Regions from separate parts of the Homo sapiens genome. Here all the other regions are linked to region 2. Evidence: fine-mapped expression QTL. A gene starts in region 2. Each other region holds a variant in brackets. All regions are shown on one strand. Distances are between the middles of the regions. Region 1 has its middle 370 kb from the start of POTEA. Region 2 holds the start of HGSNAT (heparan-alpha-glucosaminide N-acetyltransferase). Region 3 overlaps HOOK3 (hook microtubule tethering protein 3). Region 4 has its middle 29 kb from the start of POTEA. Region 5 overlaps POTEA (POTE ankyrin domain family member A (gene/pseudogene)). Region 6 holds the start of CHRNB3 (cholinergic receptor nicotinic beta 3 subunit).

The links. PIP is the estimated chance that this variant, and not a neighbour inherited with it, causes the effect. A credible set is the group of variants that fine-mapping cannot tell apart.
Region 1: its variant is the best candidate, but not a certain one, in a credible set for the expression of HGSNAT in whole blood (TOPMed, PIP 0.60).
Region 3: its variant is the best candidate, but not a certain one, in a credible set for the expression of HGSNAT in whole blood (INTERVAL, PIP 0.65).
Region 4: its variant is the best candidate, but not a certain one, in a credible set for the expression of HGSNAT in cerebral cortex (GTEx, PIP 0.62).
Region 5: its variant is the best candidate, but not a certain one, in a credible set for the expression of HGSNAT in whole blood (INTERVAL, PIP 0.78).
Region 6: its variant is the best candidate, but not a certain one, in a credible set for the expression of HGSNAT in whole blood (INTERVAL, PIP 0.51).

Annotation. Positions count from the first base shown.
Region 1 is chr8:43,661,826-43,666,913 of GRCh38, reverse strand. No RefSeq gene overlaps it. Among named protein-coding and RNA genes, the nearest start is that of POTEA, 370 kb to the right of the region's middle. The variant G/A (reference allele first, on the strand shown) is at 3,099.
Region 2 is chr8:43,137,935-43,143,022 of GRCh38, reverse strand. It overlaps HGSNAT (heparan-alpha-glucosaminide N-acetyltransferase), which reads right to left and starts at 2,559. Exons shown (of 18, transcript NM_152419.3): 1 at 2,409-2,559. The coding sequence starts at 2,526. RefSeq lists silencers at 1,580-1,959, 1,970-2,759 and an enhancer at 3,603-3,897.
Region 3 is chr8:42,992,902-42,997,901 of GRCh38, reverse strand. It overlaps HOOK3 (hook microtubule tethering protein 3), which reads right to left. Exons shown (of 22, transcript NM_032410.4): 16 at 265-352. Among named protein-coding and RNA genes, the nearest start is that of FNTA, 61 kb to the left of the region's middle. The variant T/C (reference allele first, on the strand shown) is at 1,948.
Region 4 is chr8:43,260,798-43,265,885 of GRCh38, reverse strand. It overlaps the pseudogene AFG3L2P1. Among named protein-coding and RNA genes, the nearest start is that of POTEA, 29 kb to the left of the region's middle. The variant A/G (reference allele first, on the strand shown) is at 2,409.
Region 5 is chr8:43,310,015-43,315,102 of GRCh38, reverse strand. All of the region lies in intron 6 of POTEA (POTE ankyrin domain family member A (gene/pseudogene)), which reads right to left. Among named protein-coding and RNA genes, the nearest start is that of POTEA, 20 kb to the right of the region's middle. The variant G/A (reference allele first, on the strand shown) is at 2,336.
Region 6 is chr8:42,695,710-42,700,786 of GRCh38, reverse strand. It overlaps CHRNB3 (cholinergic receptor nicotinic beta 3 subunit), which reads right to left and starts at 3,421. Exons shown (of 6, transcript NM_000749.5): 1 at 3,189-3,421. The coding sequence starts at 3,240. It overlaps LOC124900250 (a long non-coding RNA gene), which reads left to right and starts at 1,896. Exons shown (of 3, transcript XR_001745887.2): 1 at 1,896-1,975; 2 at 3,287-3,461; 3 at 4,212-4,289. The variant T/A (reference allele first, on the strand shown) is at 3,067.

The DNA.
Region 1 (5,088 bases), 520 kb before region 2:
CAAATCAAAAGAAAGGTTTTAACTCTGTGAGATGAAATGACACATCACAAAACAGTTTAAATGATAGCTTGTTTCTAGTTTTTATCTGGGGATATCTGGTTTTTATGGTAGGCCTCAAATAGCTTCCAAATGTCTTATTGCAGATTCCATAAAAAGACAGCTTCCAACATGTTAAATAAAAAAAAAATTTAACTCTATGAAATGAATCCACAAATCAGAAATCAGTTTAACAGATAGCTTTTTTCTACTTTGTATACTGGGATACTTGGTTTTGTACCTTAGGCCTCAATGTGCTCCCAAATGTCCCTTCACAGATTCTACAAAAAGAGGATTTCCAAACTAGTGAATCAAAAGAAATGTTTAACCCTGTGAGATGAATCCACACATCACAAAGCAGATTCACAGATAGCTTCTTTCTAATTTTTATTTGGGTATATTCTATTGTTCACCACAAGACTCTCTGGGTTGCCAAATTTCCCTTCGCAGATTCTACAAAAGAAGAGCTTCCAACCTGCTGAATCAAAACAAACGTTTAACTCTGAGATGAATCCACACATCACAAAGCACTTTTACAGATAGTTTCTTTCCAATTTTTACCTGTGGATATTCTGTTTTTCACCATAGCCTTCAATAGGTTCTGAAATGTCTTTTTGCAGATTCTACAAAAAGAATGTTTCCAACCTGCTGAATCAAAAGTAAAGGTTTAACTCTGTGATATGTATCTGCACATCAAAAGCAGTCTCGCAGATAGCTTCTTTCTAGTTTGCATACTGGGATATTCGATTTTTCACCCTATGCCTCTATGGGCTCCCAAGTGTTTCTTTGAAGATTCTGGAAAAAGAGTGTTTCCAACTTCCTGATTCAAAAGAAACATTGAACTCTGTGAGATGTATCCACACATCAAAAGCAGTTTCACAGATAACTTCTTTCCAGTTTTACCTCTGGATAATGTGTTTCTCATCGTAGGCCTCAATGGGCTTCCAAATGTCCCTTTGCAGATTCTACAAAAAGTGTGTTTTCTTCCTGCTGAATCAAAAGAAAGCTTTAACTCTGTGAAATGAATCCACACATGACAAAGTAGTTTCACAGATACCTTATATCTAGTTTTTATCTGAAGATACTCGGTTTTTCACCTTAGGCTACAATGGTCTTAGAAATGTCCATTTGTAGATTCTCCAAGAAGTGTGTTTCCAACGTGCTGAACACGAAGAAGTGTTTAACTCTTTTGGATGAATCCACACATCCAAAAGCAGTTTCACAGATAGCTTCTTTCTTGTTTTTATCTCAGGATATTCAGTTTTTCACCATAGCCCTCAAAGGGCTTTTAAATTTCTCTTCACAGATTCTACAAAAAGTTTTTCCAACCTACTTAACCAAAATAAACTTTTAGCGCTGTTAGATGAATCCACACATCATTAAGCAGGTTCACTGATAGCTTCTTTCTAGTTTTTATCTAGGCATATACAGTTTTTTATACTAGGCCTCAATCAGCTCCCAAATGTCCCTTTGCAGATTATACAAAAAGAGTGTTTCCAACCTGCTGAATCAAAAGAAAGGTGTAACCCTCTGAGATGAATACACACATCACAAAGAAGATTCACAGAGGGTTTTCATTTGGGTATACTCAGTTTTTCACCTTAGGCCTCCATGGGCTCTCAAATGTCCTTTAACACATTCTACAAAAGGAGCGTTTCCAAACAGCTGAATAAGACGAAAGTTTTAACTCTGTGAAATGAATCCACCCATCACAAAGCAGTGTCACAGACAGTTTCTTTCTAGTTTTTATTTGGGCATATTCTGTTTTTCATTATATGACCCAATCAGCTTTCAAATGTCCCTTTGCACATGCTACAAAAAGAGTGCTTAAAACACACTGAATCAAAAGAAAGGTTTATCTCAGTGGGATAAATCCACACATTACAAAGCACTATCTTAGCTATCTTCTTTCTAGTTTTTATGTTGGGATATTCAGTTTTTCACCATAGGACTCAATGGGCTCTCAAATTTCCCTTTGCAGTTTCTACAAAAGAGTGTCTCCAACATGCTGAATCAAAAGAAATGTTTAACCCTGGGAGATGAATCCACACATTACAAAGCACTTTCACAGATAGATTCTTTCTCGTTTTTATCTTGGGATATTCAATTTTTTACCCTAGGCCTCCACGGGCTCTCAAATGTCCCCTCACAAATTCCACAAAAAGAGTGTTTCCAATCTTCTGAATCAGAAGAAAGGTTTAACTCTGTGAGATGAATCTACACCTCAATAAGCAGTTTCACAAATAGCTTTTTTCTGTTTTCTTTAGGGGGATAATCTTTTTTTTTACCATAGGCCTCAATGCACTACCAAATGTCTCTTCACAGATTCTACAAAAAGAGTGTTTGTAACCAGCTGAATCAAAAGATCTGTTTAACCTTGTGACTTGAATCCATACATTACAAAGCAGTTTCACAGATAACTTTTTTCTTTTTTTTTTCTGGGGATAATTAGTTTTTCACCATAGGCCTCAATTGCCCCTTAAATGTCTCTTTGCAGCTTCTACAAAGAAAGTTTTTCCAATGTACAGATTCAAAAGAAAGGTTTAACACTGTAAGATGAATCTACAAATCACAAAGCAGTTTTGTAGATAGCTTGCTTCTAGTTTTTATCTGGGAATATATGTTTTTTCACCACAGTCTTCAAAGGGTTCCCAACTGTCCCTACGCAGACTCTAAAAAAAGAGTGCATAAAACCTACTGCATTTAAGAAAGTTGTATCCCTGTGTGATGAATCCAGACATCACAATGCACATTCGCAGACAGCTTCTTACTCGTTTTAATCTGTGGATATTTGGTTTCTCACCATAGTCCTCAATGGGCTCCCAAATGTCACTTTGCAGATTCTACAAAAAAAGTGTTTCCTAACTGCTAAATCAAAAGAAAGACTTAACTCTGTGAGATGAATCCACACATCACAAAGGACTTTCAAAGATAACTGCTTTTTTGTTTTACCTGGGGATATTTGATTTTTCACCATAGTCCTTAAGGGGCCCAAAAATGTTTCTTCCCAGATTCTATGAAAAGAGTGTTTCCAACCAGTCAAATCAAAAGAAACTTTTATC[G/A]CTATGAGATGAATGCACACATCACAAAGCAGATTCACAGATAACTTCTTTCTCGTTTTTATCTGGAGATATTCTATTTTTCACCATAGGCCTCAATAGGCTTTCAAATGTCCCTTAGTAGTTTCTATAAAGAGAGTGTTTCCAACCTGCTGAACCAAATGAAAGGTTTAATTTCATGAGATGAATCCAAACTTCAAAAAATCAGTTTCACAGATAACTTCCTTCTAGTTTTTATCTTTGTATATTCAGTTTTTCACCTTAGGCCTCAATGCTCTCCCAGATATACTGTTGCAGGTTTTACAAAAAGAGTGTTTCCAACCCACTGAATAAAAAAAAAGGTTTAACTCTCTGAGATGAATGCACACATCATCAAGCACTTTCACACATAGCTTCTTTCTAGTTTTTATTTGAGGATATTTTGTTTTTTACTATAGGCCTCAATAAGCTCTAAAATGTCCCTTAACATATCCTACAAAAAGAGAGCTTAAAAGCGAATGAATGAAAAGAAAGGATTATCTTTGTGAGATGAATCCAAACATCATGAAGGAATTTCACTATTAGCTTCTTTCTAGTTTATAGTTGGGGATATTCTGTTTTCCACCACAGGTCTCAATGGCCTAAACAATGTCCCTTCGCAGATCCTACAAAGACGTGTTACCGGTCTGCAGAAAGAAAATTTAAGCTTACCTCTGTGAGATGACTGCACACATCAGAAAGTACTTTCATGGAGAAATTCTTTCTTGTTTTTATCTAGGATATTCAGTTTTTCACCATAGGCTACAATGTTCTCCCAAATGTCCCTTCACAGATTCTACAAAAAGAGTGCTTAAAGAGTGTTTCCAGCCTGCTGAGTCAAAAGTAATATATAACTCTCTGAGATGAATCCACACATCACAAAGCAGTTTTACAGATATTTCTTTCTTTTTTTGTCTTGGGATATTTTTCACCTTATGCCTCAATGGGCTCCCAAATGCCTTTTCAAATATTCTACAAAAGCAGAGTTTAGAAACTGCTGAATTAAAGTTTAACTCTGTGAGATGAATCCACATATCACAAAGCAGTTTCACAGATAGTTTTTTCTACTTTTTTTCTGGGGATATTCTGTTTTTCACCAAAGGCCACAATGGGCTCCCAAATGTCTCTTTGCAGATTCTTCAGAAAGACTGTTTCCAACATGCTGATCAAAAGTAAAGTTTAACTCTGTGAGATGAATCCACACATCACAAAGCAATTTTACAGATTTCCTCTTTCTAGTTTTTATCTGGGGATATTTCGTTTTTCACTGCAGGCTTCAATGGGCTCTGCAATGTCCCTTTGCAGATTCTAAAAAAAGAGTGTTTCCAACATGTTAATCAAGAGAAAGAGTTAACTCAGTGTGGTGAACCAACACAACACAAACGAGTTTTGTAGATAGTTTCTTTCTAATTTTCATTTGGCAATATTCAGTTTTTCAACAAGGGCTTCAGTGGGCTCCCAAATATCCTTTTGCAGATTCTAAAAAAAGAAGTGTTTCCAACCAGCTGAATCAAAAGAAAGGTTTAACTCTGTGAGATGAATCCACACATCACAAAGTCGTTTCACAGACAGCGTCTTTCTAGCTTTTATCTGGGGATATTTGATTTTTCACTACAAGCCTCAATGGGCTCCAAAATGTCTCCTTGCGGACCCTACAAAAAGACTGTTTCCAACTTCTGAATAAAAAGAAAGGTTTATCTCTTTGAAATGAATCAACGTAAAACAAAGCAGTTTCACATATAGCTTCTTTCTACTTTTTCTCTGAGAGTATTCCGTTTTCTCTACAGGTCTCAAAGGGATTTCAAATGTCCATCCACAGATTCCACAAAAGACTGTTTCCAGCCTGCTGAATCAAAAGAATGTGTTAACTGTGTGAGATGAATCCACACTTCATAAAACTGTTCCACAGATAGCTTCTTTCTAGTTTTTATCTGGGATCATTTGGATTTTCACAGTAGGCAAAAATGGGCTCTCA
Region 2 (5,088 bases):
CTCTGTAGACTTTTTCCTACACTTGATCATACCCAAGAGACCATGAAGCCATGAGCTTTTCCTTCGTAATTTCTCCACACATCATCATCCCTTCGTAGATGGAATAAGTACTGTGTGTACTCATGTTTCTCTAAGCCTTTGGTGGTGGGCGGAATAAGGTACTTGTTTTATACTTAGATTATCCACACGAATTTTAGGCTGAAAGCTCTTCATTGTCATTGTTACTAACTATGCTATTTGGGAATGTGCAGAGGGGCTCAGTCTTCATTGAATGTCAAAATTACCTGAGGAAGCTCTAAAAAAACTACAAAAGTTACCAATGCCCTGGCCCCATTCCAGACCAATTAAATCAGAATCTCTGCCCAATCAGCATGATTTTTTTAATTTCCCACAAAAAACAACGAACCTCCCAAAGGGATTCGAGTGTGCAGCCGAGGGTGAAGACCACAGCTAGGGAACCACAGCTAGAGACTGTCAGAGTAACGCCAGCGGATTTTGACACCTTTTTTTTTCACTTTGCATTATTTGAATGTGGTTTTTAAAAATAATAATAACAGTCTGTATCACTTACAGACACGACCAAAGGACCCAATTACTAAGCCATCAAATAAGTCATCAAATATGACCTCGAAACTGAGCTTGATGTTCAGCTTCAAGAAAAAGCTGTCACCTTCCCACACAGCAGCTGACCTAAGAAATTCCAGGGCAATACCCCCAGAGCGTTACAGACAAAAGAACAATTATTTCCTTCTCTCTCCTCTGGTCTACCTCGTCTTGGTGGGCAAATTACCAAATAAAGTCACCTTCCAATGGTGCGGGGATAAATGTGCTGCTTGTGTATTACACCTTTATTTCCTTTCCAAATATTTAATTTCTGGTCTAGCTCTCTGCTCGTGAGTTATCTTTGCTGGGCATATTTTTAAAGACATAGTCTACTTTTTTTTTTCTTCAAGCAAATGCTGAATTTTCAAAAAGAAGGAAGATGATGACGTTTTTAGTAGGAAAGCTGTGCGGCCCAAACATGGGCTCCAGGTGACAGGGAAAGCCTTGCGGTCCCAACGCGGCTTCCCCTCACTACGTGTGATTACTATTTACAAACCACCTCTCTCTAAAAGTAAGTGCCCTTTGATAAGCTAATACTGGCGCTAAAATGCAAAGAGTGTTCGGCGGGATCAGTCCCTGACAAATTGTGATCAGGCAGATTACATAACCTCCCCGGGGTCCTTGCAATTTTAAAGGAGGGGAGCGCAGGAGATGAAGGTTGGGTGGATCAAGGATCGCACAAAATGTAATCCTCTGAGCCGCTTTTCCAAAATTCACAACGCCTTTCTCCTCCAGCTTCTGCTTGGAGAGGAGGGGTCGTTTGAACTCCATACACAGACACTAAAACTTCGTATTCTGACCAAGAAAAGGGCGCGAGAGGGGAAAGACAGGTGACTCCCACCGTCCCTCCTACCCAAAGGGGTTTGCGATGCTTGCCCGACCCCTCTGGGAGGGGCGTGTGCGAAGGACCTAGGGCCTGGGGCTCCCCGGTGCAGGGGTCTAGATGGAGACCTGGAATCTGTATTTGTCACCGTTTTCCCCACCGAGTTCGGAGAGCAAGCCAGTTGTGCAATCACGGTATGAGCTGAGCGCCTCTTAAGCCAGCGCACCGGACAAACGCCCGGGGTCCGGGGCCCGGGGCAAAAGCGCCCAGCCCGGCCCCTCCCAGGCGGCGGCGGCGGCGGCGGCGGCTTCCCAGTCACCCTGGAGGGAAAACGCGCCGAGGGGAGACGCGCGGAGGGCTCGCCCGGGACCGGGCTGCAGGCCGCGCCCCCACCGCCTTCTCCGCGGTTCCTCACCCGCCGCACATCCACGCAGGTTCAACCCCAGCGCGGGGCGAACGCGCGTCCCGGCCCCAGGCTTCCCACCCGCTGAAGCCAATGGGTCGCACGGCTCCGGCGCCACGTCCTCGGGGGCGAGGCCCTCAGGGAAGGGACCCTGCTCTAAGTCCCTCCGAACAGTGGACTGGGTGCAGGGGGAGTCCGAGCCCCCCCGATCCTCGGCTGGCCCGCCTCCTGGCTGCCAGTTTGTGGGGTCCCGGCGTCCCGATCCGCGGCCTCTGTTTAGACGGAAGGCGCCAGGACGCAGGCTCCGCTGGGGTGGGCGCCGCCTGGGCGCCCAGGTTCCACTCCGCCGCGGTCCGAACCGCCCCCTCCCCCGCCTCCGCGGGGCCCGGCCGCAGCACCCCGAAGTCCGGCCTCCGGTCTGGGGCGCGGGACCGCGAAGTCGCAGCAACAGCCCAGGCCACGGGGGCGGTTCCGGCCCGGCCTAGCGCTCGGCGCCGCGCACGGAGATAGGGGCGGCGCCGCGGAGAGGAGACGCTGCGCTCGTAGCCGGCCGGGCGGCGGTAGGAGGTGTGCACTCACCTCGTGGCGGCGCGGCCTGGGCATCGCGCCCCGAAGAGCCGCCGGGGGCCAGCAGCGCGGCGCTCAGCACGGACGCGGCCAGCAGCAGCGCGGCCAGCGCCCTGCCCGCCCCGCTCATGCCCGCCGCCCGCTCGGCCGCCCTTGCCTGCCCGCTGCGCCCCGCCCTGCGCTGCTCCGCCGCGGACGCCCGCGCGCCCGTCATCGCCCCCTCCGCTGCCGTCACCGCCGCCTGAGTCACCGCGGGAGGCGGAGGCGCCCGGGAGCCGCGGGCGGGGGAACCTAGGGGCTGGGCCGGGCCATGCTAGGCCCTGCCTTGAGGGAGCTGGCCAGGAAAGAAGCCGAGGCTCTGCGCCCCTGCGTTGGGAGTGTTTGTCTTCGGGAGGAAAAACAGCCGGAAGAGAGGCCCCTGCAGGCCAGGAGCCTTCTTCCCTCGCCCCACCTTCTCCAGCCGCATTCTGCCAAACTCCCGCCCCCGCCGGCCACCCTCCGCACGGGTGTTAGAGCCCTCGGTCCCTGTTTTGGAAAACGCCTCAATAAGCAAGACTGCAAAGTCCCTGCCCCCAAGGCGTTTATTACCCAGAGGGAGAGGCACGACTTAGAAGCCACCAAGCGGCCCCACCTCTTGAAAGAGCCCCCGGCCAGGCTGACGAAGTGGAAGGGAGCAGGTCGAGGAGTGTGCACACCCATTCTTGGCTGTATGCCGGGAGACACTATCGCAGGTATAAGGGACAGGTACAGTAATACCTATAGCAGAGGTGCTTGTAATTGCAAAACCTTGTCAACAAGCTGAATGTCCGCCAGCGAGAAAACAAACTGCCCCACAGCAGGGGAAGTGCTCTACAGCTTCCCGCATCCACATGGATAAATCTCAAAACACAAGGCTGGGGAAAATGCAAATTGCAGAATGCCTTTTTAATATATAAAGCAAAACAATAATGTATGTTGTTTAGGGACATCCATATATGTAATAAAAATACAAAGGCACACATGAAAATGTTGCGGGACTTTTCCTTAGTTCAGCTAAAGACGGTGGAGGTCCTTGTCACACGCCAGGAAAGATTAGGCTCGCAGACAATTTGAAGGGTAAGGCAGGGTTTTATTGGGTGTAAAGGAAGAAAAAGGGGAACAGGGACTCAGCAGAGCCAGAGTTCTCCTAGTTGTAGGCTTCCCACCTCACAGATTAAATCCCAGGTTCTCCCGAGGAAGAGGAGGGCCAGGCTCCTCCCAGCTGCAAACTGAGGAGCGAACTTCTGTGGCTCCACCCCAGAGCAGTGCACAGGCCAGTTGGAGTTTTACCAGGGAACCCTTCCCATCTGGCTCATTCCTCGCTCTAAAGAAGTCTATCTAACTGCCACTAGGATAAGAATAGGGACAAAGACAGATCTTAACTGCTTCCTGCTGATAGGGGGCACTGTTTCGGGAAAATGGCAATCAGATCTCCCTCAGAGGCCTATCTAAGGGTGCCCAGCAGAAGGGGCCATGGTCCGAGCTTCCAGTAGCATGACCGTTTGATGTCCTGAAGGCAAGAAGAGACAAACTGGGTTATTAAACACATATGGCCGGGCACAGTGGCTCACGCCTGTAATCCCAGCACTTTGGGAGGCCAAGGCAGGTGGATCACGAGGTCAAGAAATCGAGACCATCCTGGCCAACATGGTGAAACCCTGTCACTACTAAAAATACAAAAAATTAGCCGGGCGTCATGGCAAGTACCTGTAGTCCCAGCTACTTGGGAGGCTGAGGCAGGAGAATCACTTGAATCCGGGAGGCAGAGTTTGCAGTGAGCCAAGATTATGCCACTGCACTCCAGCCTGGCAGGTCAGGAGTTCAAGACCAGCCTGGCCAACATGGTGAAACCCTGTCTCTACTAAAAATACAAAAATTAGCCAGCAGTGGTGGTGCCTGCCTGTACTCCCAGCTACTTAGGAGGTTGAGGCAGGAGAATCGTTTGAACGGAGGTTGCAGTGAGCCAAGACCACATCACTGCACTCCAGCCTGGGCGACAGAGTGAGACCCTGTCTCAAAAAAAAAAAGAAAAGAAAAGAAACAAGGGGAGGGATAAGGACAGCTCAAAAATCCTGAGGCTTTTTACCAATTTGTACACGGAGAAGGGGGCCAAAAGTCCGAATGGTAAACAACTTTACCCTTTTGCTGGCATGTTGGGCTTCTGGGTTCCCTTCCCCTGAAACCAATCCTAAGCCAGCCAGTTTAAGGTTTAGGAAATTAACTCTTTCCAGTTTGGAAAATGCATCTGAGGGGAGTGTCCCATAGTATGGAGACACAATTAGGATTGTCATTGTGAACCGAGGAGGAGAAAGGAAAAAAGAAGGCATTTTTTCAAAGGAATCCGAAGGGTTCCAGATGCATTTGAAAGTGGTGCAGACTGAAGATAAATGGCTACCCACATAGAAAGAGGGGAGCAGGCATCCCTGGTTCTTTTCCTAGCAAATACCTGGGGTACGTGAGGGATAGAAGGAATAGCGTCCTCTTCCATCCTTGCATCCCCATGCAACCTTCGAAAGTGCTACCATGGGTGCCAAAATGGCTTGCATCCATGAAGCAGGGGTCTAGAGGGTGGGAATTATCTCCTCTACCCATGAATGCCCTATCACCCCTGCTGTCAGTAGTCTTGGAGTTCCCTAGACCTCACTTATGCTCAGGGGTTGAGGGGTTGCATGGA
Region 3 (5,000 bases), 150 kb after region 2:
CATTTAAAACATAAAGCCTCAATTAATTCTTCAGTTGGTAACTAGAAATGAACTTCTAATTCCCAGCAGAGCGAATCTGAAGAGACAATAAAGTACTATCTGGTCCTTTTTATAAGGAATGTTAGTAAAAAGGAAAACACTATTTCTTTTCTATAACCAATATAATACTAAATTATTTTGACAAAAAACATCAAATAAAAAATAAAAGTTATTTCTCAACATTGTGAAACTGATGGACCATCGTTGGTACATATTAAAACTTACATCTTCTGCTTTTGAGCCTTGATCCTGTAAAGATTTTTGTAATTCTTCAACTTGTGACTGTACTTCCAGAAGTCTTTGATTCACCAGCCTAGAAATGAAATGTACATTAATTTTCCAAGTGGTGAGTTACGTATGCCTTTTTTCCCTAGGTTGTCATATTAGTTAGAAAGTATAATTAGCAAAATCAAGTCTCATGTTATAGCAGTAGTAGTATAGTAGTGGCCTAATGTCATGAGTGGCAGCTTACTTTTCTGATTATTTTTGGTATTGCTTGAAATTTCGAATGATGACTTCTAACACAGTGTTTGGGTGGGCACATATTTTAGAACCAATGTACTTATGCATATTAATTTCTCTGAAATTCACTTCAATACATGTTTATGAAGACTATGTCTCAAGGACTGTGCTCAGCACTAGTATTAAAAGATCTCTGCACTCAGGAAGTGGGTGGTGGCCCATGCCAGCACTTTGGGAGGCCAAGGTGGATGGACTGCATGAGCTCAGGAGTTTGAGGCCAGCCTGGCCAGCATGGTGAAACTCCATCTCTACCAAAAATAGAAAAATTAGCCAGGCATGGTGGTAAGCACCTGTAAGTCCCAGCTACTTGTGGGGATGAGGTAGGAGGATCGCTTGAGCCCAGGAGGTCGAGGCTGAAGTGAGCTGTGTTCGTGCCACTGCACTCCAGTCTGGGCAACACAGTGAGACCCTGCCTCCCAAAAAAAAAAAAAAAAAAAAAAAAAAAAGATCCCTGCCCTCACGGAATTAAAGTCTAGTGGGGAGGAAAAAGTGTAAACAAATAAAATACAATCAGATAAAAACTTCAAAGTAGTACATAGATGCATATAAAAATGATGGTCAAAGAAGCAATAACTCTCTGGAGGAGTTAAAATACTCTGGGCTTGAAATGAGACTAGAACAATAAATAAAACATCTATGAGTTAAGGGTGGAAAGGAGATTCAAGACAGAGGTCAGTATGTCCAAAGTATGCAGAAAAATAAGAGGATGCAGTGAATTCAGGAATGGTATAGATGATGAGTATGTTATGAGAGGAAGAAAGGCCGGAGAGAAACTGGGGGAAAAGGAGATCAGCACAACCCTGTATGGAATACAAAGTGTCTGCTGGGATTATCCTGTAATCAGCAAGCCTCAAGTCAGGCTGAAACTGGAACAACTCAGATAACCTTAAATAACGCTGATTCCACGGCTTGACTTTCTTTTTTCTTTTTCTTTTTCTTTTTTTTTTTTTTTTTTGAGACGGAGTCTCCTTCTGTTGCCCAGGCTGGAGTGCAATGGTGCAATCTCAGCTCACTGCAACCTCCGCCTCCCAGGCTCAAGCAATCCTCGTGCCTCAGCCTCCTGAGTAGTTGGGATTACAGATGCGCACCACCATGCCTGGCTAATTTTTGTATTTTTAGTAGAGACGGGGTTTCACTATGTTGATCAGGGTGGTCTCGAACTCCTGACCTCAGGTGATCCACCTGCCTCGGCCTCCCAAAGTGCTGGGATTACAGGCATGAGCCACCGCGCCTGGCCCATGGCTTGACTTTCATAAATTCTCTAGGTCATGATGCAACATTCAGGAGACCAGCTTACCTCCCAAGGTCTTGGGTGATACTGAAGGATTGCAAGAAGGGAAAACATGGTCAGACAGACCACACAGGTAGTATGTCAGACAGATCACT[T/C]TGGTTTTAAAATGGAAGATAGTATCAAAAAGGTTCAAGAGCAGGCATGAAGATGAGAGAAGGCTATTATTATTATTATTACTAAATATGCCTGAAATAGAAAGGGACAGAGGAGGAAATAGAAAGGGACAGACGAACTATCTTGAGAAAAGGCAAAAGAATATAAGGATTTTGGTATTCGCTGAGAAGGGAAGACAAAAGGAATAGGATAAGAAAGAAATATAGGAATCTGATTTTACATTTGTTGAAAATGAAATGCCTAGAAATTTGTCAAACAGCTAGATACCTCAATCTAAAGCAGAGAGAAGCCTGAGTTGAACATACAGATTTGGGAGCCATGTGGAGTTAACTGAGGCCATGAGCAAAAATGATATTGTCTAGAAAGAATGTGAAAAACAGTGTAAAAGACTAACAAAGAAGGCCCATGGCGGATCAATCAAGGGGTAGAAAGAGGAACCTCACCCTGAAGAATATCAGAGAATGAGAGAGAATGTAAGAGATGGGTATTATTGAAATAAAAAATTTGAAGAAGGGGGAACTGAATAACAACACTGAATATAGTAGAAAGGTGAGGAAAGATAAAAGTCTTGAGTGCTGCTATGGGATTGGCCATTTAAGAGATGACCAGTTATCTTAGTAAGAAATACTTTCGTGAAATGGTAGTAGCAGAAGCCAGACTGCTCCAAATTAAGGAGAAAACAAGACAATGAGTGTTTAGAATCCAAACAGCCAAACAGTTTAATAAGAAATGCTTTTACTTAAATTATAAGAAATTATAGGTTTATAATTTAGAAAGGATCACAGTAAAAATTTAATTAAAGCTATAACTTTTTCACATCAAGGTAAAAAAATCTGAGTGGTTTTGAGTAACAAAAGAATAAATTACCTGAAAAATCCACATTCAATATGGGGACACAGGTCCATAAACACATTACTAGTAATACCACAATACTGTTCACTCTTTTCAGAAAGCAAAATGGAAATATGTATTCAACTAAAAGATTATTTCAACTATCCATCTTAGTCATTTTTGAGATTATTTCATCAAACAATACTGTAAGCCAACTAGGCGGAAGCCATTGTAAACATCATAAAACACAATCCAGTATGTACCAAGATGTTCTTTGGAATGGTTTAAAAACAGCTAAATTCTCTCAATGGGGAATAGGTGAGCAAAAATAGTAATGTAACTGTTAAAGTATGCAGTATGTAAGCAACATAAATATAAGAAAATATTTATGAAAAAAGTACATCTAGAAAATACTCAAAAAATTGAAATAATATCAAGTATCTTCTCTGAACACAATAAAACTAGAAATCAGTTAACAAAAGAAATTTTACAAACTATACAAACACATGGAAATTCAACAATATGTTCCTGAATGACCAGTGGGTCAGTGAAGAAATCAACAAGGAAACTGAAAAATTTATTGAAACAAATGATAATGGAAACACAACATACCGAAATCTATGGGATACAGCAAAAGCCGTAGTAAGAGGGAAATTTATGGGCACAAGTACCTACATCAAAAAAGAGAAAACCTTCAAATAAACAACCTAACGATGCCACTGAATGAACTAGAAAAGGAAGAGCAAACCAAACCCAAAATTAGTAGAAGAAATAATAAAGATAAGAGCAGGCTGGGTGTGGTGGCTCACATCTATAACCCCAGCACTTTGGGAGGCCAATGTGGGTGGATCACTTGAGGTTAGGAGTTTGAGACAAGCCTGGCCAACATGGTGAAACTCCATCTCTACTAAAAATACAAAAATTAGCCGGGGGTGGTGGTGCACGCCTATAGTCCCAGCTACTCTGGAGGCTGAGGCAGGAGAATCACTTGAACCCAGGAGGTGGAGGTTGCATGAGCCGAGATCGCGCCACTACACTCCAGCCTGGGTGACAGAGTGAGACTCTGTCTCTAAATAAACAAATAGATAAAAAATAAGGATCAGAGCAGAAATAAATGAATTTGAAATGAAGAAAACAATACAAAAGAGCAACAAAACAAAAACCAGTTTTTTGAAAAGATAAATTGACAAACCTTTAGCCAGACTAAGAAAAAAAGAGAGAAGACCCAAATAAATAAAATCAGAGACAAAAAAACGAGACATTACAACTGATACCGGAGAAATTCAAAGGATTACTGGTTATTATGAGCAACTATATGCCAAAAAATTGAAAAATCTAGAAGAAATGGATAAATTCCTAGACACATATGATCTACCAAGATTGAATCATGAAGAAATCCAAAACCTGAACAGACCAATAGCAAGTAATGAGATTGAAGCCATAATAAAAAGTCTACCAATAAAGGCCCCAGATCCGATGACTTCACTGGCAAATTCTACAAAACATTTAAAGAAGAACTTATACCAATCCTACTCAAACTATTCTGAAAAACAGAGGAAGAAGGAATACCTCCAAACTCATTCTATGTGGCAAATATTACCCTGATACCAAAACGAAACAAAGACACATCAAAAGAAAAAAAACAAAACAAAACTATAGGCCAGGCATAGTGGCTCACGCCTGTAATCCCAACACTTTGGGAGGCCAAGGCAGGTGGATCACCTGATGTCAAGAGTTCGAGACCAGCCTGGCCAACACGGTGAAAACCTGGCTCTACTAAGCTACTGCACTCCAGCTTGGGCGACAGAGTAAGACCCTGTCTTAAAAATATATATATAAGTATAGGCCAATATAACTAATGAATATTGATGCAAAAATCCTCAATAAAATACTGCAAACCAAATTCAACAACACATTAAAAAGATCATTTATTATGACCAAATGGGATTGATCCCAGGTATGCAAGGATGGTTCAACATCCTCATACCAACTAATGTGACACATTATATCAATAGAATAAAGGACAAAGACCATATGATCATTTCAATTGATGTTGAAAAAGCATTTGATAAAATTCAATGACAATTCATGATAAAAACTCTCAAAAAACTAGGTATAAAAGGAACATACCTCAACATAATAAAAGTTACATACGAGAGACCCATAGCTAGTATCATACTGAATGGGGAAAAACTGAAAGTCT
Region 4 (5,088 bases), 120 kb before region 2:
CAAGCAGCCTAACTGGGAGGCACCCCCCAGCAGGGGCAGACTGACACCTCACACGGCCGGGTACTCCAACAGACTTGCAGCTGAGGGTCCTGTCTGTTAGAAGGAAAACTAACAAACAGAAAGGACATCCACACCAAAAACCCATCTATACATCACCATCATCAAAGACCAAAAGTAGATAAAACCACAAAGATGGGGAAAAAACAGAGCAGAAGAACTGGAAACTCTGAAAAGCAGAGCATCTCTCCTCCTCCAAAGGAATGCAGCTCCTCACCAGCAATGGAATAAAGCTGGACAGAGAATGACTTTGACGAGTTCAGAGAAGAAGGCTTCAGACGATCAAACTACTCTGAGCTACAGGAGGAAATTCAAACCAAAGGCAAAGAAGTTGAAAACTTTGCAAAAATTTAGACGAATGTATAACTAGAATAACCAATACAGAGAAGTGCTTAAAGGAGCTGATGGAGCTGAAAGCCAAGGCTCGAGAACTACATGAAGAATGAAGAAGCCTCAGGAGTCGATGCGATCAACTGGAAGAAAGGGTATCAGTGATGGAAGATGAAATGAAAGAAATGAAGCGAGAAGGGAAGTTTAGAGAAAAAAGAATAAAAAGAAATGAACAAAGCCTCCAAGAAATATGGGACTATGTGAAAAGACCAAATCTACGTCTGATTGGTGTACCTAAAAGTGAAAGGGAGAATGGAACCAAGTTGGAAAACACTGCAGGATATTATCCAGGAGAACTTCCCCAATCTAGCAAGGAAGGCCAACATTCACATTCAGGAAATACAGAGAACGCCACAAAGATACTCCTCGAGAAGAGCAATGCCAAGACACATAATTTTCAGATTCACCAAAGTTGAAATGAGGAAAAAATGTTAAGGGCAGCCAGAGAGAAAGGTCGGGTTACCCACAAAGGGAAGCCCATCAGACTAACAGCGGATCTCTCGGCAGAAACTCTACAAGCCAGAAGAGAGTGGCGGCCAATATTCAACATTCTTGAAGAAAAGAATTTTCAACCCAGAATTTCATATCCAGCCAAACTAAGCTTCATAAGTGAAGGAGAAATAAAATACTTTACAGACAAGCAAATGCTGAGAGATTTTGTCACCACCAGGCCTGCCCTAAAAGAGCTCCTGAAGGAAGTGCTAAACATGGAAAGGAACAACCGATACCAGCCACTGCAAAATCATGCAAAAATGTAAAGACCATTGGGACTAGGAAGAAACTGCATGAACTAACGAGCAAAATAACCAGCTAACATCATAATGACAGGATCAAATTCACACATAACAATATTAACTTTAAATGTAAATGGACTAAATGGTCCAATTAAAAGACACAGACTGGAAAATTGGATAAAGAGTCAAGACCCATCAGTGTGCTGTATTCAGGAAACCCATCTCACGTGCAGAGACACATAGGCTCAAAATAAAAGGATGGAGGAAGATCTACCAAGCAAATGGAAAATAAAAAAAGGCAGGGGTTGCAATCCTAGTCTCTGATAAAACAGATTTTAAACCAACAAAGATCAAAAGAGACAAAGAAGGCCATCACATAATGGTAAAGGGATCAATTCAACAAGAAGAGCTAACTATCCTGAATATATATGCACCCAATACAGGAGCACCCAGATCCATAAAGCAAGTCCTGAGTGACCTACAAAGAGACTTAGACTCCCACACATTAATAATGGGAGACTTTAACACCCCACTGTCAACATTAGACAGATCAATGAGACAGAAAGTTAACAAGGATACCCAGGAATTGAACTCAGCTCTGCAACAAGCGGACCTAATAGACATCTACAGAACTCTCCACCCCAAATCAACAGAATATACATTTTTTTCAGCACCACACCACACCTATTCCAAAACTGACCACATACTTGGAAGTAAAACTCTCCTCAGCAAATGTAAAAGAACAGAGATTATAACAAACTATCTCTCAGACCACAGTGCAATCAAACTAGAACTCAGGATTAAGAATCTCACTCTAAACCGCTCAACTACATGGAAACTGAACAACCTGCTCCTGAATGACTACTGGGTACATAACGAAATGAAGGCAGAAATAAAGATGTTCTTTGAAACCAACGAGAACAAAGACACAACATACCAGAATCTCTGGGACGCACTCAAAGCAGTGTGTAGAAGGAAATTTATAGCACTAAATGCCCACAAGAGAAAGCAGGAAAGATCCAAAATTGACACCCTAACATCACAATTAAAAGAACTAGAAAAGCAAGAGCAAACACATTCAAAAGCTAGCAGAAGGCAAGAAATAACTAAAATCAGAGCAGAACTGAAGGAAATAGAGATACAAAAAACCCTTCAAAAAATTAATGAATCCAGGAGCTGGTTTTTGAAAAGGATCAACAAAACTGATAGACCGCTAGCAAGACTAAT[A/G]AAGAAAAAAGAGAAGAATCAAATAGATGCAATAAAAAATGATAAAGGGGATATCACCACCGATCCCACAGAAATACAAACTACCATCAGAGAATACTACAAACACCTCTACGCAAATAAACTAGAAAATCTAGAAGAAATGGATAAATTCCTCGACACATACACTCTCCCAAGACTAAACCAGGAAGAAGTTGAATCTCTGAATAGACCAATAACAGGATCTGAAATTGTGGCAATAATTAATAGCTTACCAACCAAAAAGAGTCCAAGACCAGATGGATTCACAGCCAAATTCTACCAGAGGTACAAGGAGGAACTGGTACCATTCCTTCTGAAACTATTCCAATCAATAGATAAAGAAGGAATCCTCCCTAACTCATTATATGAGGCCAGCATCATCCTGATACCAAAGCTGGGCAGAGACACAACCAAAAAAGAGAATTTTAGACCAATATCCTTGATGAACATTGATGCAAAAATCCTCAGTAAAATACTGGCAAACCGAATCCAGCAGCACATCAAAAAGCTTATCCACCATGATCAAGTAGGCTTCATCCCTGGGATGCAAGGCTGGTTCAATATACGCAAATGAATAAATGTAATCCACCATATAAAGAGAACCAAAGACAAAAACCACATGATTATCTCAATAGATGCAGAAAAGGCCTTTGACAAAATTCAACAATCCTTCATGCTAAAAACTCTCAATAAATTAGGTATTGATGGGACGTATCTCAAAATAATAAGAGCTATCTATGACAAACCCACAGCCAATATCATACTGAATGGGCAAAAGCTTTAAGCATTCCCTTTGAAAACTGGCACAAGACAGGGATGCCCTCTCTCATCACTCCTATTCAACATAGTGTTGGAAGTTCTGGCCAGGGCAATTAGGCAGGAAAAAGAAATAAAGGGTATTCAATTAGGAAAAGAGGAAATCAAATTGTCCCTGTTTGCAGACGACATGATTGTATATCTAGAAAACCCCACTGTCTCAGCCCAAAATCTCCTTAAGCTGATAAGCAACTTCAGCAAAGTCTCAGGATACAAAATCAATGTACAAAAATCACAAGCATTCTTATACACCAACAACAGACAGACAGAGAGCCAAATCATGAGTGAAGTCCCATTCACAATTGCTTCAAAGAGAATAAAATACCTAGGAATCCAATTTACAAGGGATGTGAAGGACCTCTTCAGGGAGAACTACAAACCACTGCTCAAGGAAATAAAAGAGGATACAAACAAATGGAAGAACATTCCATGCTCATGGGTAGGAAGAATCAATATCATGAATTTACAGATTCAATGCCATCCCCATCAAGCTACCAATGACTTTCTTCACAGAATTGGAAAAAACTACTTTAAAGTTCATATGGAACCAAAAAAGAGCCCGCATCACCAAGTCAATCCTAAGCCAAAAGAACAAAGCTGGAGGCATCACACTACCTGACTTCAAACTATACTACAAGGCTACAGTAACCAAAACAGCATGGTACTGGTACCAAAACAGAGATATAGAACAATGGAACAGAACAGAGCCCTCAGAAATAATGCCACATATCTACAACTATCTGATCTTTGACAAACCTGAGAAAAACAAGCAAAGGGGAAAGGATTCCCTATTTAATAAATGGTGCTGGGAAAACTGGCTAGCCATATGTAGAAAGCTGAAACTGGATCCCTTCCTTACACATTATACAAAAATCAATTCAAGATGGATTAAAGACTTAAACGTTAGACCTAAAACCATAAAAACCCTAGAAGAAAACCTAGGCACTACCATTCAGGACATAGGCATGGGCAAGCACTTCATGTCTAAAACACCAAAAGCAATGGCAACAAAAGCCAAAATTGACAAATGGGATCTAATTAAACTAAAGAGCTTCTGCACAGCAAAAGAAACTACCATCAGAGTGAACAGGCAACCTACAAAATGGGAGAAAATTTTCGCAACCTACTCCTCTGACAAAGGGCTAATATCCAGAATCTACAATGAACTCCAACAAATTTACAAGAGAAAAAAAACCCCATGAAAAACTGGGCAAAGGACATGAACAGACACTTCTCAAAAGAAGACATTTATGCAGCCAAAAAACACATGAAAAAATGCTCACCATCACTGGCCATCAGAGAAATGCAAATCAAAACCACAATGAGATACCATCTCACACCAGTTAGAATGGCAATCATTAAAAAGTCAGGAAACAACAGGTGCTGGAGAGGATGTGGAGAAATAGGAACACTTTTACACTGTTGGTGGGACTGTAAACTAGTTTAACCATTGTGGAAGTCAGTGTGGCGATTCCTCAGGGATCTAGAACTAGAAATACCATTTGACCCAGCCATCCCATTACTGGGTATATACCCAAAGGACTATAAATCATGCTGCTATAAAGACACATGCACACGTATGTTTATTGTGGCATTATTCACAATAGCAAAGACTTGGAACCAACCCAAATGTCCAACAATGATAGACTGGATTAAGAAAATGTGGCACATATACACCATGGAATACTATGCAGCCATAAAAAATGATGAGTTCATGTCCTTTGTAGGGACATGGATGAAATTGGAAATCATCATTCTCAGTAAACTATCGCAAGAACAAAAAACCAAACACCGCATATTCTCACTCATAGGTGGGAACTGAACAATGAGAACACATGGACACAGG
Region 5 (5,088 bases), 170 kb before region 2:
AATATTGAGGCTAGCCAGATTACAAGGGGTAGAGGGCAGGAAAGGTTGGCAGTATGCCAGGAAGCAGCAAGAGAGGGAGTAAGGTGTGAAAGAGTGAATGTATTTGCCTACAAGAGAAGGATGAGTGAGTAGGGCATTGCAGGCAGTTCAGTAATGCCAGAGAAAGGGCACATGGGGAAAAGGGCTAAAGATGGAGAGTGAGGCAGAATTCTGATTATGAAAGCATTCTGTGTAATTTTAAGATGCTTGGACATTAATGTTCAAGAGTGGTCCCTGGTCCTATCTGCATTAAATACAGATCACTTTAAATGCCAAAACCAATATTCCTGGTGAACCATTATTCATTAACACAAGGTGATAGGTAGCTCATGTGGACACAGCTGAGATGATACTATGCAGCAAATGCTCAATAATTCTTATGAACAGTTGGAAATTCAATTCTATAATAAAGTCATCTAAATTATAAGAAATCACATAAAATTTGGTTTGGGAAGGTGCTTTCTAAAGTTATAGTGCATATAAATATAACTAATAGTTGTGAATTCAGAGCTGTGAAAATAAAGCAAAGAAACCACATTGTGTTTGAGTCAGCAATCTTTAGATTTCTATCCAGTTTTCCTATCTAGTCCCTAAATCCTAAATATAATACTGGCACTCACTCTCAAGTTTATGTTAAATACTAGCCTATACACACAAAAAAAAGTTCTTTCTCTTACTTCTTTTTGTTATTTATATGTTGCTTTGGTCAAAGAACACAAAAATGCCTTGCTAAAAAGGATTCTGTTTGGTTGCAGTTTGCAAGAGGGGAAGAAACACAAAGTATATTTTGCCAAAAAGTGATTTTTTAGAAGTCAGAACTATAACACGAAGCCAAGCAGAGGCACTCTAGGACTGAATTTGCTGTGCTTCTTTAATATGTTCCTTGGCCTCTTTGTTTTCTGGCAGCTGTGACTCACACAAGTCATGGAGAGTATCATTCTCTAAGAGAAACACAACTCCAATTCATCTTTATCTATTAAGTTCATCTCTCCCAATTCTGTGGATGCTGACTTTCAGTCATTGATGGTGATACACATGGAAATTTATCATCAACTTTCAGATTCTTGGATCTTTGACAAGTCTTATTACTGAGAGTCAAACTAGTAGGATGCCAGCTATAAATGCTGATATTCAATGATCTATTCAAAAATCCTATATGAATATCCCATTAAACATGCACAGAAAAATAATTAGTCATTCCTCTTGAGCTGCTCTTCTTTGCTCTTCTGTATTCACCAGAAAATTTCCTACTCCTTCCTCATGTTCAGGTTAAATAATACTGTACAACCTGGAAACCTGTGAATCATCTGGGATTTCTCTCTGTCCCCTAAATTTTCTCATTCAACAGTCACTAAATCATATTGACTATACCTCTCTTCTGCTTCCATTTTATATTCCCACTGCCACTGGGAACATAAACATTTACAAAGTGGCTTTTATTTTTTTAAAAAACCCAGCTGTTAATGTTATTTCTTACATGAAAAAAAATTAAAACAAAACAAATGAAAAAGGCATAACACCAAAAAAAGGCCAACATTTTAAAATGAATAACTGAGATTCCTAACTTTATTTATTTCACGATGGATGGGTGAAAACCTTATAATAAATTGATACTAGTCCAAGGACATGTGACAAGGAAACTGTAGCTGACTACAGCAAATCTTCCTTTGTCTCCTGGTTTCTTTACATGGTTACCTTCCATCAATCCTCTATGAGGGGTCAGAAAACTATAGGCCACAGGCCAAATCCAGTCTCCCTTATGGTTTTCTAAATAACATTTTATTGAACTCCGGTCTACAGCACCCAGCGTGAGCAACGCAGAAGATGGGTGATTTCTGCATTTCCATCTGAGGTACTGGGTTCATCTCACTTGGAAGTGCCAGACAGTGGGCGCAGGTCAGTGGGTGCGTGCACCGTGTGTGAGCCAAAGCGGGGTGAGGCATTGCCTCACTTGGGAAGCACAAGGGGTCAGGGAGTTCCTTTTCTGAGTCAAAGAAAGGGGTGACGGACGCACCTGGAAAATCGGGTCACTCCCACCCGAATACTGCGCTTTTCTGACCTGCTTAAAAAACGGCGCACCACGAGATTATATCCCGCACCTGGCTCAGAGGGTCCTACGCCCACAGAGTCTCGCTGATTGCTAGCACAGCAGTGTGAGATCAAACTGCAAGGCGGCAGCAAGGCTGGGCAACGGGCGCCCGCCATTGCCCAGGCTTGCTTAGCTAAACAAAGCAGCCAGGAAGCTTGAACTCGGTGGAGCCCACCACAGCTCAAGGAGGCCTGCCTGCCTCTATAG[G/A]CTCCACCTCTGGGGGCAGGGCACAGACAAACAAAAAGACAGCAGTAACCTCTGCAGACTTAAATGTCCCTGTCTGACAGCTTTGAAGAGAGCAGTGGTTCTCCCAGCACGTAGCTGGAGATCTGAGAACGGGCAGACTGCCTCCTCAAGTGGGTCCCTGACCCCTGACCCCGAGCAGCCTAACTAGGAGGCACCCCCCAGCAGGGGCACACTGACATCTCACACGGCAGGGTATTCCAACAGACCTGCAGCTGAGGGTCCTGTCTGTTAGAAGGAAAACTAACAAACAGAAAGGACATCCACACCAAAAACCCATCTGTACGTCACCATCATCAAAGACCAAAAGTAGATAAAACCACAAAGATGGGGAAAAAAACAGAACAGAAAAACTGGAAACTCTAAAAAGCAGAGCATCTCTCCTCCTCCAAAGGAACGCAGTTCCTCACCAGCAACGGAACAAAGCTGGATGGAGAATGACTTTGACAAGCTGAGAGAAGAAGGCTTCAGACGATCAAATTACTCTGAGCTGCAGGAGGACATTCAAACCAAAGGCAAAGAAGTTGAAAACTTCGAAAAAAATTTAGAAGAATGTATAATTAGAATAACCAATACAGAGAAGTGCTTAAAGGAGGTGATGGAGCTGAAAACCAAGGCTCGAGAACTACGTGAAGAATGCAGAAGCCTCAGGGGCCGATGTGATCAACTGGAAGAAAGGGTATCAATGATGGAAAATGAAATGAATGAAATGAAGCGAGAAGGGAAGTTTAGAGAAAAAAGAATAAAAAGAAATGAGCAAAGCCTCCAAGAAATATGGGACTATGTGAAAAGACCAAATCTACGTCTGATTGGTGTACCTGAAACTGACGGGGAGAATGGAACCAAGTTGGAAAACACTCTGCAGGATATTACCCAGGAGAACTTTCCCCATCTAGCAAGGCAGGCCAACTTTCAGATTCAGGAAATACAGAAAATGCCACAAAGATACTCCTCGAGAAGAGCAACTCCAAGACACATAATTGTGAGATTCACCAAAGTTGAAATGAAGGAAAAAATGTTAAGGGCAGCCAGAGAGAAAGGTCGGATTACCCTCAAAGGGAAGCCCATCAGACTAACAGCGGATCTCTCAGCAGAAACTCTACAAGCCAGAAGAGAGTGGGGGCCAATATTCAACATTCTTCAAGAAAAGAATTTTCAACCCAGAATTTCATATCCAGCCAAACTAAGCTTCATAAGCAAAGGAGAAATAAAATACTTTACAGACAAGCAAATGCTGAGAGATTTTGTCACCACCAGGCCTGCCCTAAAAGAGCTCCTGAAGGAAGTGCTAAACATGGAAAGGAACAACGGGTACCAGCCGCTGAAAAATCATGCCAAAATGTAAAGACCATCGAGACTAGGAAGAAATTGCATGAACTAACGAGCAAAATAACCAGCTAACATCATAATGACAGGATCAAATTCACACATAACAATATTAACTTTAAATGTAAATGGACTAAATGGTCCAATTAAAAGACACAGACTGGCAAATTGGATAAAGAGTCGAGTGTGTGCTGTATTCGGGAAAACCATCTCACATGCAGAGACACACATAGGCTCAAAATAAAAGGATGGAGGAAGATCTACCAAGCAAATGGAAAATAAAAAAAGGCAGGGGTTGTGATCCTAGTCTCTGATAAAACAGACTTTAAACCAACAAAGATCAAAAGAGACAAAGAAGGCCATTACATAATGGTAAAGGGATCAATTCAACAGGAAGAGCTAACTATCCTAAATATATATGCACCCAATACAGGAGCACCCAGATTCATAAAGCAAGTTCTGAGTGACCTACAAAGAAACTTAGACTCCCACACATTAATAATGGGAGACTTTAACACCCCACTGTCAACATTAGACAGATCAATGAGACAGAAAGTTAACAAGGATACCCAGGAATTGAACTCAGCTCTGCACCAAGCAGACCTAATAGACATCTACAGAACTCTCCACCCTAAATCAACAGAATATACATTTTCTTCAGCACCACACCACACCTATTCCAAAATTGACCACCTACTTGGAAGTAAAGCTCTCCTCAGCAAATGTAAAAGAACAGAAATTATAACAAACTATCTCTCAGACCACAGTGCAATCAAACTAGAACTCAGGATTAAGAATCTCACTCTAAACCGCTCAACTACATGGAAACTGAACAACCTGCTCCTGAATGACTACTGGGTACATAACTAAATGAAGGCAGAAATAAAGATGTTCTTTGAAACCAACGAGAACAAAGACACAACATACCAGAATCTCCGGGATGCATTCAAAGCAGTGTGTAGAGGGAAATTTATAGCACTAAATGCCCACAAGAGAAAGCAGGAAAGATTGAAAATTGACACCCTAACATCACAATTAAAAGAACTAGAAAAGCAAGAGCAAACACATTCAAAAACTAGCAGAAGGCAAGAAATAACTAAAATCAGAGCAGAACTGAAGGAAATAGAGACACAAAAAACCCTTCAAAAAATTAATGAACCCAGGAGCTGGTTTTTTTGAAAGGATCAACAAAATTGATAGACTGCTAGCAAGACTAATAAAGAAAAAAAGAGAGAAGAATCAAATAGATGCAATAAAAAATGATAAAGGGGATATCACCACCGGTCCCACAGAAATACAAACTACCATCAGAGAATACTACAAACACCTCTACGCAAATAAACTAGAAAATCTAGAAGAAATGGATAAATTCCTCGACACATACACTCTCC
Region 6 (5,077 bases), 440 kb after region 2:
TACTAAATCCAATAACCTGTTATAAATCTCAGATCTGTATTTCTAGATCCATCAACATCTGTCCATAATTTTATGAACAGGATTTCATAAAAATCTTCAGGATTATTTATGGTTTTACTGATAATGCCATTTTTTTATCCTCAGCCAGGACAGAAAAGAAATAATTGGGCCGGGCATGGTGGCTCATGCCTGTAATCCCAGCACTTTGGGAGGCCGGAGCGGGTGGATCTCCTAAGGTCAGGAGTTTGAGACCAGCCTGGCCAACATGGTGAAACCTCATCTCTACTAAAAATAAAAAAGAATTAGGTGTGATGGTGGGCACCCGTAATCTCAGCTACTCGGGAGGCTGAGGCAGGAGAATCCCTTCAATCCAGGAGGCAAAGGTTGCAGTGAGCCAAGATTGCCACTGCACTCCAGCCTGGGTGACAGAGCGAGATTCCGTCTCAAAAAAACCACAAAAAACAAAAAACAAGGCCGGGCGCAGTGGCTCACACCTGTAATCCCAGCACTTTGGGAGGCCGAGGTGGGTGGATCACGAGGTCAGGAGATTGAGACCATCCTGGCTAACACGGTGAAACCGCATCTCTACTAAAAATACAAAAAATATTAGCTGGGCGTGGTGGTGGGCACCTGTAGTCCCAGCTCCTCTGGAGGCTGAGGTAGGAGAATGGCGTGAACCCGGGAGGCGGAGCTTGCAGTGAGCAGAGATCGCGCCACTGTACTCCAGCCTGGGCGACAGAGCGAGACTCCATCTCAAAAAAAAAAAAGAAAAGAAATTATTGAAGAATTCCAAATCTCAGCAAAGACGATTGTGAAATGTGGATTTTTTTGCTTTGATGCCTTTTGGTATATTTTGTTTCTTCCTTCCACTATTGCCGCCTCGTCAAAAAAAAAAAAAAAAAAAGCATACCACAAATATGGCAGCCTCTTCCGTCACCCATGGAGCTAGCCCTCATGGTGAAATCAAAGAATGCATATTCAATGGATTCTTGATAGCATGAGACCTTTTTCTTCTTTTTTTGAGACCGAGTTTCGCTCTTGTTGCCCAAGCTGGAGTGCAGTGGTGTGATCTCGGCTTTCTGCAACCTCTGCCTCCCAGGTTCAAGCGATTCGATTCTTCTGCCTCAGTCTCCCGAGCAGCTGGGATTACAGGCGTGTGCCACCACGCCTGGCTAATTTTTTGTATTTTTAGTAGAAACGGAGTTTCACCATGTTGGTCAGGCTGGCCTCAAACTCCTGACCTCAGGTGATCTGCCTACCTTGGCCTCCCAAAGTGTTGGGATTACAGGTGTGAGCCATGATGCCCAGCTGAGAGCTTATTAGAAAATGGCTTTGTTTTTATTTCCTCTTGCATTCCTAGACACTGGAACCATTCCTAGGATACAGTAGATGCTCAATAAGTATTTATTGAATGAATAAACACATTGTGTCTTATCATATCATCATGTTGTAAGAGAGATGGGAAGATAAATAAGATACACCTCCTGCTTTTTGAGAGCAGATAGCACACACAAAATATGAAATAGCAATATGAGAGACAACCCATGGCCACACCCAAGGCTCCTTTTTACCAAAGCCAGAAATATAAAAATGAAGGGGTTGCCTCTTGTAATTTGAAAAAAGTAGTTTTGCATAACAAAAAGAAACTATTTTGTTTACAATGAATAGTAAAGTTAAAAAATGTAAGGAAATATGGGACAGATTTAAAAATATGAGCAGATGCTGATGGATCTAGAAATACAGATGTAAGATTTATCACAGGTTATTAGATTTATTATAGATCTGTGAAAGATTACACAATCTTCCCAAACTCTTCCAGCCCACACAATGGAGACCAATGCCAGAGGCCAAGCAATTCCAGTTTTCTTATGTAATCATGATTGTACACAGAGGACGAGACTTAGCTGAACCAAGAGAGTTTATGCTAAACACCCTCGCTAACCATTGAGAGAAATCATTCCTTGGGAAAAGAGTGGTAAGAATCAATTGTCTTATAATAAATAGAATAATAAAGACAGAAAAACATCAGACACACGTACATTAATGGTAAGCTCAAACACACAGAATTTTCTTATCATTTTTGTGATTGGCAAACTGCATTCAAGACTTTGAAAAGTCCAAATTTCATGATATTTGAAAGTGAGTTTGAGGCTTTCTGCATTTAGAAATTCCTGTTTGACTTTGAGTCCTTGGTCTGAGAAAAGGCGTTTTTGACAACAGGATAATGTTCAGGTGCCTCGCAGCCTTGGGAACTTGAAATGTAGAATTTATTTCTGGATTTGGGCAAATCTCCCTTAGTGTCTCCAGTTCTCCATTTGAAAATTACAATAATCAAACGTGGCAAAAATACTACTGAGAAATTAATACAAATTGCTAGTGAACTGACACTTTTCTCACCATCTGGCTGCGGTTTCAGATGGTTTCTGATTCAATGGGGGAAAACTTTCTGTTCTCAAGTTACACAAAAAGTGAAAAGATTCCCAAACCCAGGAAATTGGCAGGTGCAAATGACCAATCCCCAAAGCCTTTCAGTACTTTATTCCCCTTTCTTTTTCTCTTTTTGTTCTTTCTCTGCATCTCTGTCTCTATCTTTCACTTTTTCCTTTTATTTGTCCTTTATCCTTATCAAAAATTCCTCTATTTTCAGTTGATAATAGTCACATAAAACACATAGAGTTTTGATACATTGGTGTTTAATTGTGATATATAAACATGCTAAATCTACCTACATACACAGATTTATTAAAATATATAGGCCTACAGGGCATATTGGACAAAATTAAATATCTACATGCAGATATAGAAATTATTGGTAAATATGATAGAAAAATGTTGATATAGTAAATTTCTGTGCCAAATATTTGAACAATTCTCTGAGTAATGCTCAGTGCATTCAATAATGTTTTTCCTGCTTTTGTATTTTCTTACCAAGCTCATAGTGATTCAGAAGGAGAAACGCAGCAAATGACAAAAACATAAACATTATGAAAATCATAGATATGATTTCTTCAGCAAAAAAAACCCCACATCTCACAGAATTACTCATTTGGGCCACATTTTAAAGGT[T/A]ATCCTAAATGTATCTTGTGCATTACATATTGTAATTCTAACATTATCAACACCATAGTTTTGCCTCCTCTGCTTAAATAATTCTGCAACTGTAGTTTTAATTTACTGTGACTTGTGCTTACCTGAGGAAGGGATGCCAAGGACGATGAGAACCAGCATAAAATCTGGGAGCATCGTGATGTCAGTTTCAGAAAGACAGTTTCTTCCTTTTTAACAACAGAGCATTTCCACTGGAAAAGGGGGTTTTGAAAAGAAAATACAGGGGTTCAAAATCCGAAGTGGAACCCAAGAGGACAGCAACACCTGGAGTGGAATAAAACAATCTCAACCCCTCTCGCCGAGTGTGCCGCTTCTCAAAGTGCACTTCATTGATTTGCAGTCAGCTGTCAGATCGTGTAAGTCTAAAACATATCTCTGGGTCCTAACTCCTGACTTATTAATTTACTCCCTTGCAAGAGATGCGGGGCACTGGAGAAAGGATGAAACTAGACAACTTCTGAATGTTCTGTGCTATTTTTCTTACAGTTGGAGATCTGCGTACAGAAGAACCACACTTTACCACATCCATAGTGAAAAGTTTCTCATCCCCGTTATTTCTCTATTCTCTTTTCTTTTTCTTTTTATTCTTTTTTTTTTTTTTTTGATATGGAGTCTCACTCTGTCACCCAGGCTGGAGTGCAATGGTGCAATCTCGGCTCACTGCAACCTCCGTCTCCCAGGTTCAAGCCATTCTCCCACCTCAGCCTCCTGAGTAGCTGGGATTATAGGCACCTGCCATCATGCCCAGCTAATTTTTGTATTTTTGTAGAGACAGGGTTTCACCATGTTGGCCAGGTTGGTCTTGAACTCCTGACCTCAGGAGATCCGCCCGCCTTGGCCTCCCAAAGTGGTGGGATTACAGGCATGAACCACTGCGCCCAGCCTCTCTATTCTCTTTTCCAGTTGGACCTGAAGTCATGAGTATGTCCTGGAGCCTCCCTATTCTGCTGGTTCCCACATGTGTTAATATCAGCACATTCTCTGTGGCTCCCTTGACCCCACCAGGCCCACCTTCTGGTCACTGCAGGGGACAGTAGGGTGGGAGGTTAGTGGTGTTTTATGTATGAGACTTGGACACTAATAACACCATCCTTTCTTCTTCACAGTTGATCAGATTTCATCTAGTTCAGTGCTGTGCACACCCAGAGGGCCCTTGATAAATGCATGATACATCAAATGAATGGCAAGTACAAAGTCAGGGCTAGACAGACAAGAGGGCCAGGTGGGAGCCAAGACCTATCTGGTTGGGAACTGAGTGCTGGAGGAACCCACTCCAGGGCATGGAGGAATTCTGTCTTAGCGGCAGTGATTTAGTCCAATTTTTAAATTTCTTAATTTAACCCTCCTCTGTGTGCCATTAGTGAGTTTGAGACACCCAGAGGGTGCTCGGTAAGGAGGCATCATGTGTGGAAAAGAGGTCTAGCCCAGGACCCCGGGACCCTGAGCTCTTGAGCCCTGTCTGTTCCTCAGGGCCCCTGTCTCAGAGCCCCTCACATCACAATGTCGCTGCCCTGCCTGGCCTCCCTTCCTAGACCACCAGCTCCTGCAGGAGGGCTTGGTCTCCAGCCCTCTGGAGTCTCCTCTGTATCTCTCTGTGTCCAGGGCCTGACACCTGCAAATGCTTGAGAACGTTGTGGGAATGCAAGGAGGAAGGAAGGAGCCATGCACTGATTTCCTCCTATCCATCTCAACTGTGCTCCCAGCCTGCTGAGAATTTGTAATGGTCTCAGGAGTAAATCAGCCACCGCCAATCCAAGTGTGCAGGAAGTTTCACCTTTATTTTCAAGAAATTGAATAAAATGAAGCTAGCCTTCCATGGAACTGGCTGGAAATCCAATCTCAGTCATTGCAGGCCCTGCAGCCTTCTCCCTAGGGGAGCAACTGAATCTGGAAGCCTTTTGTGGTCCCCAAAATATGGCACAGTCTTGTATCCTCCAGGCTGCCTTGACCACAGCTGGGGTCCATGCCCCAC